4 separate regions of the Homo sapiens genome follow, and regions 1, 2 and 4 are each linked to region 3. Evidence: fine-mapped expression QTL. A gene starts in region 3. Each other region holds a variant in brackets. All regions are shown on one strand. Distances are from middle to middle. Region 1 overlaps C5-OT1 (C5 3' UTR overlapping transcript 1). Region 2 overlaps TRAF1 (TNF receptor associated factor 1). Region 3 holds the start of PHF19 (PHD finger protein 19). Region 4 overlaps FBXW2 (F-box and WD repeat domain containing 2).

What was found. PIP is the estimated chance that this variant, and not a neighbour inherited with it, causes the effect.
Region 1: its variant is the best candidate, but not a certain one, in a credible set for the expression of PHF19 in whole blood (TOPMed, PIP 0.70).
Region 2: its variant is the best candidate, but not a certain one, in a credible set for the expression of PHF19 in blood mononuclear cells (TOPMed, PIP 0.67).
Region 4: its variant is the best candidate, but not a certain one, in a credible set for the expression of PHF19 in CD8 T cells (CEDAR, PIP 0.81).

What each region holds. Positions count from the first base shown.
Region 1 is chr9:120,944,570-120,950,444 of GRCh38, forward strand. The region is part of intron 1 of C5-OT1 (C5 3' UTR overlapping transcript 1); the gene reads right to left. Among named protein-coding and RNA genes, the nearest start is that of C5-OT1, 5.3 kb to the right of the region's middle. RefSeq lists an enhancer at 277-326. The variant T/C (reference allele first, on the strand shown) is at 3,315.
Region 2 is chr9:120,915,736-120,919,735 of GRCh38, forward strand. The region is part of intron 3 of TRAF1 (TNF receptor associated factor 1); the gene reads right to left. Among named protein-coding and RNA genes, the nearest start is that of TRAF1, 9.1 kb to the right of the region's middle. RefSeq lists an enhancer at 3,630-3,779. The variant G/T (reference allele first, on the strand shown) is at 1,731.
Region 3 is chr9:120,874,181-120,880,055 of GRCh38, forward strand. It overlaps PHF19 (PHD finger protein 19), which reads right to left and starts at 3,008. Exons shown (of 15, transcript NM_015651.3): 1 at 2,911-3,008; 2 at 376-576. The coding sequence starts at 561. RefSeq lists enhancers at 1-34, 1,845-2,436, 3,448-3,497, 3,758-3,807 and silencers at 2,028-2,477, 2,758-2,807, 3,048-3,327.
Region 4 is chr9:120,778,045-120,783,919 of GRCh38, forward strand. It overlaps FBXW2 (F-box and WD repeat domain containing 2), which reads right to left. Exons shown (of 8, transcript NM_012164.4): 4 at 307-501. Among named protein-coding and RNA genes, the nearest start is that of FBXW2, 12 kb to the right of the region's middle. The variant C/CACAT (reference allele first, on the strand shown) is at 3,631.

The sequences.
Region 1 (5,875 bases), 70 kb after region 3:
GATGAGGTTCAGGAACTCTCCCAAGGCCACAAGTCAGGGCAGCTCCTCTGTTTCATGGTTCAATGTCTTACTTCTTCACTGTATCACTTCCCCATACTAACTCCTCCTTTCTCTCTCTGTCTGTCAGTCACACACACACAACATAGCCAAATCAGTGAGCCATTTTAATTTCGACACCCAGCATTTATTTAATGAACAGACCACAGTTTGGCCTTTCGCCTTTAGAGGTGAAAGGAGGAGGCAAGAAGAGGATGAATGACGACCAGCCTTGCCCCAAGGCCCTAACAGACTCAGGAAACCTTTCTGCCTTCTCCTCCAACTCTAAGCATATCTCCTTTCCCTTCCTCTTCCTTTGCCCTCAGAGAATTACAGTCTAGTCCTGGCTCTAATTTCCTAAAGGTTCTTTATTTGGAAAATATATTATTAAGCCAAACAATCCTTTCCTTAACTCCAATTTCTCTTGTCTCATTCAGTTTCAACCCCCCTCCCACCGACCACCCTTCCAACACCAACACACACACACACACACACACACACACCCCTCCAGCCTAACAACAACAACACCAAAACCCTCTGATTGCTCCCAACTCATCTGTTAGACATGTTAGCCCTGGCCCTCACCACCAGGCTCGGGTCTCTGCTTGCCCCTGCAGGCAATGTTTCTATTAGGCCCTGAGGAGACACCAGGCTGCATATAGGAAGGCAGAGGAGCCTGGTGCTGCGGGTTCTAGCCCCAGCTCTGTTGTGGAACCCTCTTGGTGAGTCCTGGCTCCTCCCTGGGCCTGCTTCCTGGTCTGTGAAATGGGGAGGCATTGATGAGATGATCTCTAGAGGATCTTTAAATGTCAATATTTTATGAATCTAAGTAGGATGTTCACAGGTAAAAAATTATTGAATTTACCACCTCTAGTGTGCCAGAGAGGTATTATTACCCAGCCACAAGTTACTTTTATTGTGCCAGGCACTGTGCTAATCATTTTATGTGCATTATCTGTATTATCTCATTTGAGCCTTGCAGAAATCCTCTGACTTGGGTATTATTAGTACTTCTGTTTTTCAGATGTGAAAACTTCACCTTTTTATTAAAGCAGTCAAGTAGATGTTTTCTTGACTATTAAAAGTCTCTCAGCACTGAAGGGACATTAAGCCCCCTACCTTGAATTGCCCAGAAACATCCCTGGAAGGTGGCAGCTAGACTCTGCTCAGATGGCCCCAGCAATAAGGAACTTGGACCTGACTCTACTTTTGAATGGCTATGGCTATAAGAAAATGCTTCTTCACAGGGAGCCAAAACTGGTGTCTCTGTAACTCCTGCTCATCTCAGTGGTGGGAAGAATGCGGTGTTCAGAGGCCTCACTTGGGCTTCTGTCCTGGCCTTTCCATTTATCAGCACCATAATCCTAGACAAGCTGCTCCTCTGGACCTCCATGTTCACAGGCAAAAAATGAAGGAATCGGATGAGATGAGCTCTAGGTCCTTTCTGGTGTGGGCATTTTAGATTTGTATAATTCATGACTGTGCATGTAACATACACATATCTGACTATAATGATGGAAACAGAGAAGGAGTGGAATTTTGGTGGCGGGGGGCCTCTGTCAGGTATGAGGCTGTGAGCATGGTGTGTGTATGTGCATGTTTCTGGGACAGGGGTCTGTGAAAGAGAAGAGTGGCCCTGGACAACTGGCGTGAGGCCTCGGTGTCCCTGGGAGCCAGTCTGGTGCCCAGAGCCAGGCTGGGGTGTTCTCTGTGTCTGATGTCATAGAACATCAACATCAGACAAAATGGATCCATACTAAAAACGACTACTCTATAATCATGTTTGAGCAGGATATAAAAACAAGAACATTGTCCAAACCACAAAAATGACCACACACACCCTTTTCCTGGCTAAAGTGAGTAAGTGCTGCTACTTTTCCTCCCAGCTAGAAAAGAAATAAGATACTGGGTCATAGGATTGCCCCTGCTTCCTGAAAGCATCCAATCCAGAGTAAAGTTCCATTTCTTTGAGGCTCCTCCCAAATACTCTATCACAAGTACAAATCCTATAATAAGGCTTTTCTAATGCACTCTCACCGAGAAGCCTTATGGTCCCCATGGTGTGTGTTCTCCCTTGTTGCAAAGACTCAATAAACTGAAACTTGTTCAGTTCCAGGTATTCCTGGTTGTCTTGATTGGAGGGAATTGATAAGTCTATAGCTTTCATTAGATTCTGAAAAGGATGTGTATGTGGCTGGAGAAAATCCCACAACCCATGCTGATCAGTCCCACTTTAAATTCATGACTAGAAACTTCAAGTGGACCCTTAATACGAAGAAGCAAATATATTACAAGTCCTTAGTTGGTTCAGCCTCCCTCTCTTTTAGATAACTGTCTCACCCTTCTTTCCTCCCGTCACACCTCCAATTGCTCCTCCCTATCCTCCATCTCAGGTGATGATCTTCATCCTACTTCTCTGAGAAAGGGACTTCCACAGACTCTCACCACATCTACCCCTTGCCAGCGTCTGCTGCATGTGCTCAGCTTCTCTGCCTACAACCATGGGTCATGGATCAGGGATCGGTATGCTGCTGCCCAAGGGCTAAATCCAGCCTGCCTAGTCCATGCCCATTCTTTTCTGCATTATCTATGGCTGCATTTGTGCTACAATGAGAGAGTTGAGCAGTTGCAATAGAGACTTATGAGAATTATGGCCCACAAAGCCTAAAATATTACAGTTATTTTAATGCATGGCTCTTTACAGAAGTTTGCTGACCCCTGGCATAGGTGAGCTAGTCATGTTCTTATTTAAAGCCAAGTCCTCCACTTGTGCTCCAGATCCTATCCACTCTTACCTCTTCAAGGACATTACTCTAGTAGTTCTCCTTTCTCTCTCCTGCATCGTCAATTATTTACTCTTTACTGAGTCATTCCCTTTAGAACACAAATGTGTTATTTCTTCCGTCTTAAACTTTCCTTCACTCTACTCCCCTCAATCCATTTCTTTGCTCCTTGAATGAGTTGTCCATACTCCCTGTCTCCAAATCCTCTCCTCCTATCTACTCTTAAATCACTCTATTCAGGCTATTCTTCCCACTACTCCACCCAACCTGCCCTGTCAAAGTCACCAATGCTAAACCCAACAGCCAAGTCTTCATCTTACTTCTCTCTGAAGCATTTGATACAGTTCAACACTCTTCCTCCCAGAACCTCTTTCTTTTGTTTGGCTTGAGGGGACCTCATCTCTTGTTTTTTCTCCTAATTCAATGGATCCTCTATCTCTTTTCTCTAATAACTTCATCTTGGAATGCTCAAAATGTCTATCCTTGGTCTTCTTT[T/C]TTTCCACTCCTCTGTCTGTATTCACATCCTTAGTGATCTTAACTAGTCTAATGGTTTTAGTATGCTGATGATTCTCAGATTTATGTTTTTCAGCCCAGAGCTCTCTCCTGAACTAGATAACTATATGACCAATTGCCTTCCAGGCTCCTTCACTTGGATGTTTAATAGATTTCTTCTAAAATTCAACACATCCAAAACTGAACAGATTCCTAACTCCCCACAACCTGCTCCATCTGCAGCCTTCCTAATCTCAGGCAACTCCATCTTTCCAGTTGTTCAGGCCAAAAGTCTTGGCATCATCCTTGACTCCTTTCTTTCTCTCACACTTATTTCCACTCTATCAGGGAATTCAGTTAAACCTACAATATTAGTCCCTTCAATTAAGCCTACTGTATTAGTCCCTTTTGTATTGCTATAAAGGAATACCTGAGGCTGCATAATTTATAAAGAAAAGAGATTTGTTTGGCGCACGGTTCTGCAGGCTATACGGGAAGCATGGTGCCAGCATCTGCTTCTGGTGAGGCCTCAGGAAGCTTACAGTCATGGTAGAAGGGAAAAAAGAGCCTAAGTGGCACATGGTGAGAGAGGAAGCAACCAGCTAGAAGGAGGTGCCAGGCTCTTTATAAACAATCAGATCTCGTGGTAACTCACAGAGTAAGAACTCTCATTACCATGGGGAGGGCACCAAGCCATTCACGAGGGATCCACTCCCATGGCCCAAACATCTTCCACCTCGCCTCACTTCCAACACTGGGGATCACATTTCAACATGTGATTTTGGGGGACAAATATCCAAACTGTATCATTTACTTTTAAAGTATATCCAGAATTCAACCACTTTTCAATACCTCCACTGCTACCACTCTGGTCTGAGGCACCATCATCCCTCACCTAGTTTATTACAGTAGCCTCCTATCCGTTCTCTTTACCCTTGCCTTATTTTCAACAGCAGTTACAGTAGTCCTTTAAAAAGGCAAGACAGACCATGTCACTCTTCTTTTCAAAGCCTTGCAATGGCTCCTGTTTCCTTCCAAGTAAAGCCAAAGCCTCTTCCATTGGCTTCATAATCTGCACCTGCCACCCCTGCTTCCTTGCTTTTCCTGTGACACACCAGCATGCTCCTGCCTTAGGCCGGACACTATGTACCAAGAGTGCCAGGAACACTCTCCCCTTGGCTAGCTATGTGGCTCACTCTTTCACATCCTTCAAGTCTTTGCTCAAATTTCACCTTCTCATTGAAGCCCACCCTGACCTGGCCACCCTATTTAGAACTGCAACCCCTCCCCTGACCATTACCAGTCTCCTTTAGTCTGCTTTTTCTTTTTCCCATTGCTCTTATCACTTTCTGAGATCCAAGACTAATTGCTTAATTATTCTCTTTATTTTTTATTACATATCTCTCCCAGTTGGAATCTATGTTCCACAATGGCAGGGATCTTGGTACCAAGCACCTAGAATTGGGCCTAGCCTGCAGTCACCAATCAATACATGTTTGTTGGGTGTTGCTGAATACATCAGCATCATAGGGTCTGGAAAGAAAGACTAAACATGACTTTGGTCCAGAATTTCTCACTGAGAAATATGGAGCAAGGCTGCTTGCCTCAACCTTGGCTCACAGACCTCCACGTGTTTTCTTAAGACAGAGTATCTTAAACGTCAATCATTTGCATGCCAACTGCATGATTTTTGCCCTAAGAATAAACTTACTTTTATTTACTCAATACTTTTTCTTAAATAGACTTACTTCTTGGAAAATAGATTTATTTTGGAAGAAAATGTTACATCATGGCTTTGATGTGCTAATTACTTTTTTAAAATACATGTTAAAATAAACATATAGCCACTAAAGTGAACAATGTGCATCGTATCACCTAAGAACATCTTGCTTACCCCTGGGGAAACCTGCCTTAAGCGTTGCCCCTTAACCAGAAAGGCCTTCCCTGTACCTCCCACCTACCCAAATCCCAGTGTCCTTCTACAGAAAGCCTTGGCAGCTCTTCCAGCTTACTTCTCTGCACTGTCTCCATACTTACAGACAAAATATGTAAGCCCAGGCCGGCCATAGTGGCTCACGCCTGTAATCCCGGCACTTTGGGAGGCCAAGGGAGGTAGATCACCTGAGGTCAGGCGTTCGAGACCAGCCTGACCAACATGGCGAAAACCTATCTGTACTAAATACAAAAAATTAGCTGGGTGTGGTGGCACATGTCTGTAATCCTAGCTACTTGGAAGGCTGAGGCAGGAGAATTGCTTGAACCCGGGAGGCGGAGGTTGCAGTGAGCCGAGATTGCGCCATTGCACTCCAGCCTGGGCAACAAGAGCAAAACTGTGTCTCAAAAAAAAAAAAAAAAAAAAAAGAGAGAAAGAAAGAATGAAATACATAAGCCCAATATTTGGATGCTTATATGCCGTTTGGTTTTTCCTGTTTCACATCATAAGATTATAGAACATCTTCTTAGCTATAGATAAAAGAGACATTAGAGTGTCCAATTCCCTTATTTTATAGGCTATCAAAGAGATTAAGAGGCTTGTCCCAAATCACTGCCAATTAGGGCCAAAG
Region 2 (4,000 bases), 41 kb after region 3:
AGGTGGGAGGATCGCTTGAGCCCAGGGGTTCAAGGCTGCACTGAGCTATGATCACATCACTGTACTCCAGCCTGGGTAGCAGAGAAAGACCTTGTCTCTCTTAAAAAAAATAAATGAATAATGAACAGATACAATCTATGAAAGTATCTTATAAAGTTAAATCATACTTATAAAATAATTTACTTATAAACCATACTTATAAAGTTACCATACAATCCACACATTTCACTCCTAGGAATTTACCTAAGAGAAAGTAAAACATATGTCTGCACAAAGGTGTGTATGTGAATGTTCATGGCGGCTTTGTTCAAAGCAACCCAAATGTGTCATCAGCTGGTGAGTGGGTAAACAAATTGGTCTATATATACTACAGAACAACCAAATGGAATTAAATACCAGCATAAATAATAACATGGATGAACCTCAAAAACATTATGCTAAGTGAAAGAAGTCAAACACCAAAGACTACATACTACCTGTTTCCATTCTTACGAGCTTCTAGCAAAGGCAAAACTAGAGTGACAGGAAGTAGATCAGTGGTTGCCTCCTGGAGCTGTGGGTGGGGAGGGGACTGACTATGCAGGGACACAAAGCAGCTTTATCCCGTGCAGAAACATTTGCCATTTGACTGTAGTGGCGGTTACATGATTATTTATATTCATCAAACTGTACACTTAAAATGAGTGAGTTTTATGGCATATAAATAAAATCTTGATTCTATAAGCGCTTTGTTATTTATTTATTTTTTTTTGAGAGAATAATCTCATGGAACCACGTGAAAGGGGATTTGGACGAAAGCAGGAGAGGACAGAGGTCTTTCGGACTGAGCAAATACAAAAAGTCACACTAGTTATTATTCTTTAAAAGTAACATAACCAGAGAGCTGTGGGCTTAATGAGTACAGTTGGGTTGAGACACAGAACACAGCCCAGCAAAGGCCACCCTGCCCCCACCCCCACCCACCAACTGCCCAGGGCTTCAGGGACAAGTTGTTCCCAATAAATAATAGAAAACAGATGTTCTATGGAAGGCAGGCAGAGGGCGGCCTTGGCAGGGAGACCGTGCTGGCTTCGGGAAGTCTGTGGTGATGAAACCTCCCCAAACATGTAGCTTTTGACATGTGAGAACAGTGGAGGGAAGATGCTATGTGTAGACCTGGCTCCTTGGTGAATATACCTGGGGGAGCCTTTCAGGTCCCACCCCTCCCCACAGGTCCATGATTCCAATAGTCTGTGGTTCTAAGGGTCAAAGCTTGGTGGGAGAGTCATAAAAGAGATAAGAACATGAAAATGATCAAGCTAAGAGTGAAATTCCAGACATCACCCCGCAGGTGGAGGGGATGTGTCTTTCAGCAGCGGAGCTGTCCTGGCGTTGTGTGAACAGCAAATGTCTGTTTTAGGGAGTGAAATGCTATTCAGATGTAGGGACATCCTTCTGTGATGCGTGTACAGATGTGGACTGTGATGAGCCTTGAACAGTTGCTGGAGAAAGGGGCAGGGGTGACTTGAGAGGCTTTCAGAGGCTTCTCCATCATCATTATTCATTCCTTAGAGTGCACGGGAGTTCAGGATGTGGCCTCTGGAGCCAGCCTTTTGGGGTTCAGAGCTTGTTTCTGTCACTTCACATACTAGCTTTGTGGCTCTGGGATAGTTACTAACTCCTCTGTTCTGCAGTTTCCTCATCTGCAAAATGGGGATAATAATAATACCCCCTTACAGGGTTATTGTGAG[G/T]ATTAAATGAGATAATACATGTAAGCACTGGTATTAGTTACCCATTGCTGCTGTAACAAAATACCACAAACTTAACAGCTTAAAACAACACAGCTTTATTATCGTACAGTTCTGGAGGCCAGGGGTCCTAACATGGAAATGTCAGCAGGACTGCGTTGCTCCTGGAGGCCCAAGGGGAGGATGGCTTCCTCCCTTCCCCAGCTTCTCAGGGCTGCCTGCACTCCTTGGCTTGTGGTCCCTTCCTCCATCTTCAAAGCCAGCAGTGGAGCATCTCCCCTTCTCTCTGACCCTCATCTCCCTCTTCTGAGGACACTTGGGCCTCCTGGATAATCCAAGGTCACCTCCCCATCTCAGAATCCTTCATTTAATCGTGTCTGCAGAGTCTGTTTTGCCATTGTTATGGGCTCAGCAACCCCCACCCAAATCAGATGTTGAAGTCCTAACCACCAGTATCTCAGAATATGGAGACAGGGCCTTTAAAGAGCTAATTAAATTAAAATGAGGTCATTGGGGGTGGGCCCTAATGCAATGTGACTGGTATCCTTTTAGGAAGGGGAAATTTGAAGAAGGACCACATGAAGACATAGGGAGGGGACAGCCATGTCAAGGCAAAGAGAGAGGCCTTGGAGGAAACCAACTCGCCAATACCGTGCCTTGAACTTCTGGCCTCCAGAACTGCGAGGAAATACATTTCTGTTGTTTACACCACCCAGTCTGTGCACTTTGTTATGGCAGCCCTGGCAAATGCATAGAGCCATGTGAGGTCACATACTCACAGGTCCTGGGGATTCACATGTGGACATCTTTGGAGGACATTATTCTGCCTAACACAGTGTTCAATAAATATGAGCCATTATTACTAATAATAAATTAATAGTAATAATGGCTCATATTTATTGAAATTATTCCATACTACTACTGAATACTTGTTGAATACTACTGCTACTAATAACACTAATAATACTAATAGTAGTAATACTACTAGTATTACTACTAATTAGTATTCTTATTCCTGTGGATTAAGCACTGCCCCGGGACATCTCCCAGTCCCAATCCCTCAGTGGCTGTCATATACATGTATCTCATTTAATCCTCACATCACAAACTCTTTAACAATGAACTCTCTAAAACTCCATTTTCCCACTGGATTTCCTCAAGGTGGTGAGGAACATTCCTAAATGAACAGGACCAAAATATGTTTGAATGTTGTCCCATAGGATCCCTGTGACAATCATCTGAGGCAGGTGGGGCTGTATTAGAGTCACCTTAACACAGGCAGAAACAGAGGGAATGGCTTAAGGTCATGCTGAGCTTGTGAGCAGAGGAGCTGGGCACACCTGTGCATTCTCTCTCACAGTTGTGAGCCCCTGCATGGGCTTGCTGCTCTCCTGGCACTCATGTAGACACTGTCCCATCAGATCCTCACAGCCATGAGGGGGAGGTTGGGGCTCTGAGGTTCTGCTTCCCTCGGGTAGGTGGAGAAGCCGAAGCCCAGGGGCGATCAGTGACTTCCAGGAGGCAACGGGGCAGGCGAGGGGAGCCCAGGAGCCTGGAGTCCGTGTGCAGGCTCCGTCCTCCCCACCATAGTGTCCTTGCCTGGGGTGGCCTCACTCAAAGGCCAGGGACCGAGGGGACAGGAGAGGGAATCAGGAATCAGACTGCATTGCAGGAGAAGAACAGAGGATCTGTCCTGGGCCAACCCTGTCTGGTGTCACAAGTGGCCCCTGTGTGAGTGGCCTCACTGCTTGCAAATTGCTAAAAATAAAGTGTGCAGTGGAATTTCCTCCGAGGAGGAGACAGAAACAGAGAAAACAGATTCCCAGCCCTGAGGGAACACTCGTTCTTCTGTCTGGGTCTGAGGAGTCTCTGCGTGTGTGGTGTTTCCGGCCACCCTGGCTACCCAGGCCCTTTGTGGTGGGGTCACAGTGGGCCCTAGCGGGGGGCCCCATTCTGAGACCTGGGGCCTCCGGGAATGTGACTGTTAAGAGGGTGCTGGGAGCATGAGTGCCACCTCTGCAGCCCCTGCACAGAACAAAGAGGATCTGAGCAGGCCAGGCACTGCCTACCCCCACACTGGGCTGAGGTCAGGGATGCCCGGAGGGGCTGCTGTGACTCAGGTCTCAGCTGGTGCTGAGGGGGTGCTCTACAGTCACATGGGGAGCTTGGTCAGTCTGCCACTGTCCGCCCGTTCCTGCCCTCCTCTGTAACTGGGCCGGTTTACTCTCTGTCAGCCTCTGCTCAGCTCGACCGCCACCTCCTCCAGGAAGCCC
Region 3 (5,875 bases):
AAGGATGGCAGTTCCTGGACAGGGTGTACTCCTAGTCACCTGGAGTCGTACAGCCAGGGACCGATGGATGGCAACTTGGTCAGAATGTTGAGGACAGAAGCACAAGTCAGATGCTCCTCTGTGATCCTCTCAAACCTGACTTTTTTGTTTTGTAGGCTCTCAGAGCACTTTTCTAAAGAACTAGTTGGATGATGTTGACCCTAGGGATGGTGCCTGCAAGACCAGGCTCTGGCCCCTCCCACCACCAGCTTTGGGCATGAGGGACAAGAAGGGAATTCTCCAGCAATCCCCCTGCCCCCTGGTCTGACAGCCAGGCTGGAACATGAGCAGAGAGATTCTGAGTCTGAGAACAGGGGCCAGAGAGGATGGGTTTACCCTCTTGATCTTCCCGAGGTAGTACAGGCCATCTGTCCACCGGCACAGCACATACTGGCCCTCCGTCAGTTTGGACATCAAGTCTTTGAAGTTGTTCTTGACCTTCGCCAGGGCCCCCTTGTTGGGGAGGTGGCTGGTGGCACCATAGGAGTCCCGAGTCCCTGGATCCAGAGCTCGATTCTCCATCAGCTTCCCCTGACACTGGGAGAGAAAGAACAGGGTTTTTGCTTCTTGCTTCCCTGCTTCAGAAAGCCCATCAGGGGAAGGAAGGAAACCACCATTTCTGTACCCTGTGCTATAAGCCAGACTTGGTTATTATCTCACTGATTCCTCGTGACCATCCTATGAGGGAGACATTATTATTATTCACATCTTACAGATAGGGAAACAGGTGTGGCAAGGAGAAGAGGCTGATGGGCCAAAGGCAGAGCCATGGCCCATACCACACTACCTTTTAAAGAGAATGGATCTCTCAACCCACACAGAACAAAGTCCCCTACCCAGCGGGCCTGAACCACTCCCTGTCTCAGGAGGCTGAGGTTTTATTCCTTAAGCAAACACAGTCCATGTGCTCTGGATGGAGGATCTTCTCCAGGCAAGCAGTTGGGTTTTGTTTTTACCCCCAACCCCTGCAACCATCCCTAACCTGAGATCTGTCCAGAGAAAATTCACCTAGAAAGGAAAACTGGGTGGCTTGTAGCTAGTGTAGACTGGGTCATCTGTCTTTTGTAATCCCCCCTTCTGTTCTCAATTATGAGATGATTTAATGGAAACCAATTCTGGGACATTTAAACCCACTTATGCTTTCACCCAGATACACATTTGCTCCAAGCAGTGAAGTCATCCATCCCCATGCCAGCCTCTCCACGCCTGTCTCTCACCATCCTATTCAACGTGCAGTTCACCCATCGATTTCTCTCTCCCTGCCTGTGGTACTGCCTTCATGCATCTCAAACTCCTCCAAGCAATTAGTTGCCACAGCCGGCCCATTTTAAGTGCCATGATTTCTGGCTTTCCAGCTCTAGCTTCCATCCTCCTGCCCTGGTCTCAGTTCAGGCCTCATCTTTTGCTTGGGCCATTCATTCATTCATTCATTCACCCAATAACAGTTTCCTGGGCCTTGTGCTTACCTCCACTAGGCACCTAGGGTGGGGAACGGTACTACCAGCACCCAGTGCTAAACAGGCCGTTCCTGCATTCCTGCCTCTCCACCAGACTCTTCCGCAGGGCCACCAATTTCCTTCCAGAAACTTTCTGGGGCTCCCCACTGCCCTCACTGGTGCTCAAAGCCGTCCCTAACGCCCCCTCCTTTCTGCTGGGCTCACCTGGCTCCAAGTCCCTCCACATGCTCTCCACTACAGCCACACACAGCCTCTCTCTTTCCCCGCGGGCCTACTCGGGTCTCCTCCTTGTGGCCATGGCGCTGGGCACCTGGTGTTGTGACTATCTGTTCACAGGGAGAGAGTCCAGTGCCTGTTTCTGTGTGGTGCGTGTGTGTACTCCTGTGAGACTGGGCAGGATGATGTCTACGGCATTGTGCCAGGGAGTGTGTGAAGCTAAGTATGTGCGGGGCCCTGGGGCGAGCCAGGCACTGCAGGGGTCTCGGCTCCCCAGATGGTGGCGTGGCCACGACCTTCTCCACCCCCACTCCCATCTCCTTTTTCTCCAGCGCAGAGCGCACAGGCTCCCGGGCAGGGGATGCGGTCTGAATCCCTGTCCTCTCCCTGCCACCTGGCTCGCCCGGCGCTGCGAGGTCCCCGCCCGCCCGGCCAGGGGCCAGGCCGGGGCCGCTGCAGGTTCACAAACTGACACTTCCTCTCCCGCTGCGCCTCTAGGAGCCGGCCGGGTCGCCGCACCCGCCTCCACCCTGGCCGGGCGGGGGCCCCCGGGTGGCGCCCCCCCAGCCCCCGCCTCCGTCCTCCCGGAGCGGGCCCCCGCGGGCTGTGATTGGCTGATTCAAACCCATTTGCAAAGAAATGCCTGTTTGCGGGTTCCCGTCTGCGTCCAGTTCAAATCCGCGGCACCGGGAGCGCGGGGCCGGGCGGGGGCAGGAAGCGAGGATGATTCATGCGCCGGGGCCTCTCCCAGGGCGGCCGTTGGCTTTTTAAAAAGGATGTTCAGGAGGGGGGAAAAAGCTTGCAGAAGCACCCCCTTCGGGTTCAGCGCTCCTCTCCTCAGTCGCTCGGACGCCAAGCCTCCCCCATCCCAACCCTGCCGCAGCCTGACTTCGGACGTGAGCGAAATGCCAAACGCCCGTCTGTCCTTCCCCCACCCCGATAGGAAAATTAAAGATCGGGGGCGAGGAAGAACGACCTGTCACCCATGCCCCCCGGGGCTCGGGAACCCGGGTGGGGCCCCTCTGCCCCGCAGGTAACCTGCACCCCCGGTCCCCACCCCCGAGAGCCCCGCTCCGCAGGAGTCTCACCCCCCGGAGGCGTTCGGGCCGCCAAAGTTCAGGGAGATTTCGAAAAGAGAGGGATGAGGGCCGGGAGGGGAGAGCGTGGCGGGGAGTCCGCCCAACAGCGCAGAACTCACCGCGAGGCTGCGTGTCCGCCGGTCCCACTTGGAGTCTGGCCACCAGGCGCATCGGTGGCGGAGGCGGCTGCGCTCGGCCCGCGGCTGCCCGGCCGAGTGTCCGCCCGTGGGGCCGGGGTCGGGGTCTCGGCGGGGGCGGGGCGGGGCGGGGGCGCCGCGGGGAGGAGGGGGAGGCGGCGGAGGGAGGGGCCGGGGCGCTCAGGAAGGGGCCCCCCGGGCGCGGGGCGCCATCTTTTTCGCGTTTTCCCGCGAATTATTGACGTCCCGCTTATGTAATTAGCGGGGGCCGCGCCGGCCTCGCCATTGGAGCCCGCGGCCGCCGGGCTCCGCAGCGCCGCCAGCCCCCGCCCGCCCCCGCCCGCCCCGCGGGCGCGCATCCTCCGCGGCCACTAGCCAGGACCCGGGCCCCCCGCCGAGGAGCGGCCACACCGCGGCGCACACGGAGACGCCAGGCAGCGCTCATGGCGCACACGACCGCTCGCACACTTGTTGAGGAAACACAGCTCTGCGCGCAGGCACCGGCGGACCCTGGCACAGACACACAGCAGGGCGGCGCGGACCCTTGGCGCAGACACAGACCCAGGACGCCCAAACAGGCCACACAACACCTTGCACTAACAGCACAGGCGTTCGGCACAGAGACACAGCACAAGTATAATGTAGATACACAACACACAGTGCACAACGCATGTTGTTCCGACACAGGTCAGAACACACCACAGCATGTACAGGACACAAACACACCACAAAGAGAAGTACTGTACACACCAGCCATAGGCATAGATACACAAGGGGGAACACACTGTACACAACAGAGACACACAACAGAACATGCATGTAAGGTAGACGGACATAACACATAAAGTCACAACACAGACGGGCAAGAGACACAAGTTTTCCTGAAAAAGTGGCATTCAGATAGGTTGTGGAAATAGGTTAGTGGGTGTGCCAGGTGGAGGGAATTCAGTGGGCTAACAATGCAATTTTTAAAATACGGGTTAAGGATATCAAAAGGCAATTCACAAAAGAGGAAACCTACATGGCCGAAATAGCCCCAAACAACAAATTGCGTAGAGACACAGTGCACAGAAATACATGGTACAATCGCAAATATATACCACACGCACAACATGTCATGTAAATAAAGGGCACACAATGAAAGACAACATGCACAGAGTCATAGGAATGGCAGATGGAGTCAGTGGGCAGAGCTCCAATCATAGGGACCCTGCCCTGTGGGGGAAAGGCAGACATGGCCCCACCCAGACTCACTCTTGGGGGAAGGGAGGAAGAACACTTACCAATAACCCCACCCCCATCCTTGCCCTCAGTCCACAGCGCCCACCTCTGTGGCTACCATCCCACTCTGCAGACACCCCCACCAGACAGGGATATGTGCTTTCATGGGTGTGGCCAGTGGACAGCACCTTCCCCCAGAGCCTTCCCTGTTCACTGTCAGTTGCTCACTCTGGGCCCTCTGCCTCCTGGCCTTGGAGCATGATCTGTGCAGCCCCCCACCTCACCTTCTCAGCAGAGATCCAGGAGTCCTTTCACCTCCTTCCTCACTTCCTTCTGCCCCTTGATCCCCCTGCTCTCACCTGCCTCACTGCCCCATTCTGGATCCTGGCGCCTCAGCAGAACCTAGCACTGCTGAGTACCTGCCTGAACCTGGAAGGAAAGCCTGGGAGCAGCCCCATGGCACAAAATCTCCCAATCCTGGAGAGCACATTTTCAAGTCCCAAAGGGGCCCTAGGATTGTGCTACTTAACCATGTTCTGCCAAGAGAAGGTGTGTCCAACGCGGGTAGGGCTGATGATGGGAGCAGAACACTCCCACTAGCTTCTAAGCTGGCTGGGTCTGCCTTCAGGATGCTGGGGGACAGAGATGATAGAGCGAAGTGCTCACCTCTGAGGCTACAGGCCAGCTCCACCCATTACTGGCCATGGGAGCCTGAGTGTGTCACTTCTTTCTTTCTTTTTTTTTTAAACAATTCTTGCTCCAGAGACTTTAAGTCTTAAGCCTCCGTGTCCTCACCTAAATAGAGTTATTGGGAAGGTTAGAGTTAATGTATGCAAAGCCCCTGGTGCCCAGTAGGTGTGCAGTAAGTGATCATTGTATTAATACTTTGTTAAGAAATTCTGTATTCAGAATCTTGATTGCCCCACTGTGTGGGACTAGAGCGGGGGGATGTGAGACACACAGGTGGATGGGAGACACACAGGTGGATGAGAGACAAGGAACTGGCAACCTCGTGGAGGAGGCGGTGTTGATGCATAGATAAATAAGAGGGGATTGTGCTGTGAGCTGCACGTGGAATTGAATTGTCCTGGCTTCAAGTCCAGCTCTGCCTCTGAGCCAGGGCGGGGTCTTGGGTTAGCTAGACCCTCCTACACCATGTTTCTTTATCGGTTGAAAAGAGGGTAATAATACTACCCATCTCGTGGGGCTGTTGCATAAATGTTCAAATAAGACAATGAAGGAGCAGGTGCTTTTGTAAACTAAAAAGTTTGATATGCAAAATAAGAAGTTAAAACACTACAGAACAGGAAATTATAAATGCCACAAGAAAGGTACGGTGTCACCAGTGATTATTTAGAGGCAACTCTAAATTCGAATTGAGGAAAGAGAACAAGTTTCCCGGAAAAAGTAGCAATCAGTTAGGTTGTGGAAATAGGGAGGTGGGTGTGCCAGGTGGAGGGAGTTTAATGGGCTGACCAACAATCCAATTTTTTAAATATGGATTAAGGATATCAACAGGCAACTCACAAAAGAGGAAACCTAAATGGCTAAAATAGCCTAAAATGTGAAAAGGTGCTCAACCTTATTGGCCACGTGAGAGACGCAAATGAAGAGAACTGTGATACACCATTACACATCCACCAGATGGGCACGGAGTCGAGTCTGTCAATATAGGGGGGTGGGGGGTGAGGATGTCGCACAGTTGGGACCCTCAAATACCTATGGA
Region 4 (5,875 bases), 96 kb before region 3:
AATAGGATATAAATGAAACAGGAGGGGGGAGAGAGAGAATGAGAGAGAGAGAGAGAAACAGAGAGAGAATGAAAACTACCCTTCCCACCAGAAGGGTACACACATAGAAGAAAGCAAGAAAAAGCAAAACTGGGTAAAACATTCGAAATAAGAGTAACTAGAATAAAGGGAAATAACTGCAATGACTAAGAAAGAGGGTTGAAAAAAGCAGGTTAAATTAAAAAAAAAAAAGCATTTCACATTCTTGGCTCCTGGCTTAAAAGGATGAGGCTAAGTTGTAAAAACCCTTGAAAAAGGGCAACCCACCCGCCCCCGTGTGCCCCCGAAAGTGCTGGGTCCTGGCTCCGGAACTCCATTCCCAGCAAGCCACAGTGTTGTCAAAGGAGCCTGTCACAAGCTTCTGTTCATCAAACTTCACCGCTGCACAAGTGTGGGTCTGGATGCCATAAACGCACTGCCCTGTGCTCACATCCCACAGCTTTGCAGACAAGTCATCTGACCCTTCAAGAGAAAAACAGGGAGGTTAATAAGAAAACAAACACACTAAAGAAGGAAAATCAATCCCAAAATCATGGTGTTCTTCAAGAACATTAACGGTCCCTTCCTCTAGCACTTTACTTTACCACTGAAGAAATCAAAGCACGGAGAGAGTAACACAACTTGCTTAGAGTCACCAAAACGGAGTCAAAAGCACTAGGACAGAATCCAAGCTTTTTGGGTGAGACACTTTCCCTTAACTTTTCAGGCTACAGAAGGTCATTAGACTAAAAGCATCCCTTGGTGCTTCCACTTGAAAAATTTCATAAATCCTTGGCTATCACGAGCTCTCTGATTTGACTTCAAATAAATAGGTATTACACATGACTGCATGTTTACACTTGCATGCTTGTCCATTACCCAACAGTTCTGAACAAATAAGGATTGTTAAATAGTAAAGGTGTTTGCTGAAATATATTCCACTCTAAGGCAAGTCAAGGACAAACCTCAGAGCCTGGGCTAACTTCTGCAAAAGCTAACTGCTAATTGCTCCAGTCATCTTGAAATACGTGAAGGAAGAAACCTCAAGGAAAACCTGGGATAAATTATCCCCAGATATTCACAACTCAACAAAAAGTTTGTAAAGCCTCTTAAGATTCTGAAGGGAAAAGTTGGCTTTATTTCTGCCTCTGATGAAAATTCTATACTAATCATGGTGACAATTCAGGACTTTGCTTTAAGTTTAAAATCCTAATGATTAATTCATTCTTACAATGACCCTTCAATAAGCCTCAACAAATAAAAAGACATTTTTGAGAATCCACTAAATACAGTCACTATGATAATGGCACAGTATCCTAGGAAAGCACCAAATGACCAGTTTTTAAAAAGCTGAAATGACTAAAGCCAGCCACAATTCTACCTTCAGTCAAGAACCACTGTTTGAGACAATGGAAAAATAGCCATCACTTATGAAAGAGCTAGAGTATGAATTTTAACCTGGGAAAACTATGATAGCATACTGAAATAAAGACTGTATTTATTGTCACTTTGCTATTTAGACTGTTTCCTTCTGTATAAAAAGAGGGGTAGGACTTGGTTGGTTCTCAATGGCCATGTGATACAACTTTATCAAAACACACAGGCAGGTCCCTATTTTCAGAGAGTTTAACTTGGGGAACATCTGAGGCAGGGTCCAATAATCTTAAAAGTTTGCCAGGTGATTCTAACTCATCAGCAATATTTTGAGAGCCAATGGTCTAGAACGGTGCTATCCAACAGAAAATATAATGCAAACTGCAGATATAATTTAAAATGTCCTAATAGTTACATTAAAAAAGAAATGTTGGGCCGGGCGCAGTGGCTCATGCCTGTAATCTCAGCACTTTAGGAGGCCAAGGCAGGCATATTGCCTGAGCTCAGGAGTTCAAGACCATCGCGAAACCCTGTCTCTACTAAAATAAAAAAAATCAGCCGGGCATGATGGCGCGCCTATATTCCCAGCTACTCGGAAGGCTGAGGCATGAGAATCGCTTGAGCTGGGGAGGCAGAGGTTGCAATGAGCTGAGATCACGCCACTGCATTCCAGCTTGGACTACAGAGGGCCTCCACCTCAAAGAAAAAAAAAAAAAAAAGAAATGTTAGCCAACATGGTGAAACCCTGTCTCCACTAAAAAAAATACAAAAATTAGCCAGGCATGATGGCGTACGCCTGTAGTCCCAGCTACTCAGGAGGCTGAGGCAGGAGAATCACTTGAACCCGGGAGGAGGTTGTAGTGAGCCAAGATCACACCACTGCACTCCAGCCTGGGCAACAGAGGAAGACTCTGTTTCAAAAAAAAAAAAAAAAGAAAATGTGTTAAAATAATTAAATGTGTTTAACTCAGTATGTCAAAAATGTCATTTGAACATGTAATCAATACAAATATTGAGATATTTTATATTCTTTTACATTGTATGTCTTTGAAACCCAGTATTTCACACCTCCATTTGGACTAGCCACAGCTCAAGTACTCAAAAACCACATGGCGCTAGTGGCTACTGTACCGGAGAGCGTAAGCCTAGATAGTCTTTAAGGCCTTCAGTTCAGGCATGTTGTGACTGTATTCCTAAGGAGCTAGAGTAGGAAAGGAAATCATTTTAGGTCCTTTATGAGCTTGGTTTTGGTTACCAGTGTTCAACTGGGGTCTCATTCATTCATTCAACATATATTTATAGAACTTCTGTGTCAGGCAGGATTCTTGTTCTCATGGCACTCAGTCTACTTGGGAAGACAAAAAGGCTAAACAAGCAATAATAATTCAGTATAGTAGCTGGCAGGCACTACAAAAGCCCATAGCAAATACAAGGAGAGGACAAGAAGAGAAAACATCTCAGACGAGGCTCCACTGAATTTATGACCATGCTCTATAACACGTGCCTTAGGAACTGGCATGATTGGTTCTTCAACTACACTCCTCTTTTGTTTTTAAGCTGGGCTTTGGTATAGGACTGTTTCAAGAAAGAATATCATGGCAAAAAAAAAAAAACCTTTAAGTTTTAACTAATTTAAACCTAAGGATGAATAAGTTAGCCAGGCCAAAACAAAACAAAAGGAATAGTATATACCAAAACTTTTTCTGTAAAGGGCCTGATAGTAAGTATTTTAGACGTTGACCTATTGAGTTGCAATTACTCTCTTCTGCTGGATTTGGCCCACAGTCCACAGTTTGCCAATCCCTGGTATATACCTATTAAAGCAACTATTAAATATCTCTATATGCAACACAAAAATTATTGAAAAGGAACTGGGATCAAGTCATAAAGAACTATTTGGAATCATTCAAAAAACCGTCTAGGAGTTATTTACAATGCTTGTCAAAAGCACTGCCTAAAACATGAACACTGATTATGAAAACAGTTCAGTCTGACTGCGAAATAGTGGCAAGGTTTGGCTGCAGAACTGGGTTAGGAGGTTGTTTAACTATGACCTTATTTGCATATCAGAAAGATCACTATGGCTATATCATGGAAAAAGGTTTGAAGGGGGGAAAACTAGAGGCAAGAAGGCAGTTAAAAACCAGGGGAGAGGACAAACAAAATGTGACACATACATGGAATATATTTTATATACATACACACACACACACACACACACACACACACACACACACA[C/CACAT]ATACACACACACACATATATACATACATGGAATGGAGTTATTCAGCCTTAAAAAGGAATAAAATTGGCCGGGTGTGGTGGCTCACACCTGTAATCCCAACACTTTGGGAGGCCGAGGCGGGAGGATCACCTGAGGTCAGGAGTTTGAGACCTGCCTTACCAACGTGGAGAAATCCCATCTCTAATAAAAATACAAAAATTAGCCAGGCGTGGTGGCGCACGCCTGTAATCCCAGCTACTTGGGAGGCTAAGACAGAAGAATTGCTTGAACCCGGGAGGCGGAGGTTGCGGTGAGCCAAGATGGCGCCACTGCACTCCAGCCTGGGCAACAAGTGCAAAACTCCGTCTCAAAAAAAAAAAAAAAAGAATAAAATTCTGAGATGTTATGATATGGAAGAACCTTGAAGACATCATGCTAAGTGAACTAAGCCAGCCACAAAAGAACAAATACTGTATGATTCCACTTATATTAGGTTCCTAGAGTAGTCAAATTCATAGAAAGTAGAATGGTGGGCCAGGCATGGTGGCTCATGCCTGTAATCCCAGAACTTTGGGAGGCCGAGGCTGGTTCACCTGAGGTCAGGAGTTTGAGACCAGCCTGGCCAACACGTTGAAACCCCGTCTGTACTAAAAATACAAAAATTAGCCAGACACGGTGGCGCATGCCTGTAATCCCAGCTACTCGGGAGGCTGAGGCAGGATAATCGCTTGAACCTGGGAGGTGAGGTTGCAGTGAGCCAAAATTGAGCCACTGCACTCCAGCCTGGGCACCAAATTGAGACTCTGTCTCAAAAAAAAAAATAAAACAAGCAAGCAAGCAGAATGGTTGTTTTGCCACAGGCTGTGGGGGAAGGGGCATGGGCAATGTTTAACTGACAGGGTTTAGGCTGGACATGGTGGCTCATGCCTGTAATCCCAACACTTCAGGAAGCTGAGGCAAGAAGAGTGCTTAAGCCCAGGAGTTAGAGATCATCCTGGGAAACATGGTGAGACCCCATCTCCATAAAAAATACAAAAATTAGCTGGGCATGGTGGCACACACACGTAGTCCCAGCTACTTGGGAGGCCAAAGTGGAAGAATCGCTTGAGTCCAGGAGGTAGAAGTTACAGTGAGCCAAGATCATGTCACTGTACTCCAACCACTCCAACCTGGGCTACAGAGTGAGACCTTATCTCAAAAGAAAACCCCCCCAAAAACAAACAAAAAAATTGGATACAGTTTAACTATATAGTGTATTATATACTGTTTATACAGTTAACACTGTATAGTGTTTAACTGATACCATTTTAGTTTGGGAAGATGTAAAGTTCTGGAAATGGATAGTGGTGATGACTGCACAACAACGTAATGTACTTAATGGCACTCAACTGTATGCTTTAAAATGATTAAAATGGTAAATTTTATGTTATGTATGTTTTCGCACAATTTGCAAAAAAAAAGGTTATCCAAACTAATTATTTAAACTAGTTTTTATAGGAAAACATTGTGCCAGTTTTACACCCTAAAAAAAAATAATAATAATCAGGTTGAGTCGAGTTCCATTTATAGTGATGCAAGTCTACTCCTGAGAATCCTTTAGGAATCACTGTTCTCTGCTCCTTTCTGGCTTTATGTCAGCCTCCCCTCTGGACTCCCATTTGCTGCACTGGCTAACCCAACATGTTTTCAAAGAGGTCACCAGTGATGCAGCATAGAGGTGAAAGAGGACTAAAGAAATGTGGACTCTCACACTGCACGAAAGAAAAAAATCCCTCCCCATTCAGTATCTTAAAAATCTTAATAATACTTTAAAAAAAATCAGACTATTGCACAGAACTCTAGATTTCAGGCTTCTCTTGAAGTCAGATCTAACAACTCTGACCCTGAATCCCACCCACATGGCAATAATTTATTACAATGGAGCACCAGCTGCACTCTTTAGAAAGGCAAGTGTTCTTGATTTGCTATAGTCCACACAGAGACTTTTACCTCAGTCAGGTCATCTTCCTGGTCCCAGTGTGTATGTTCCACAAGAAAAAACTGCTCTAATTCATCCGTGTATGCCCTCACATTGTTTTTCAAACAGTAGGCATCCCATAAGTAAATATCTACTGAACAGCACAAAGCATAATAGATTCCTTTCTTACCATTTCAGAAATAAATTGCGAAAGAGAAAGATAACTACCTCAATGTCATTAGCCATTAATCTCTTCAATAAAACTGTCTATTGCTTACTCAAGGCACTAATGTGAGAGTCACTAAGTT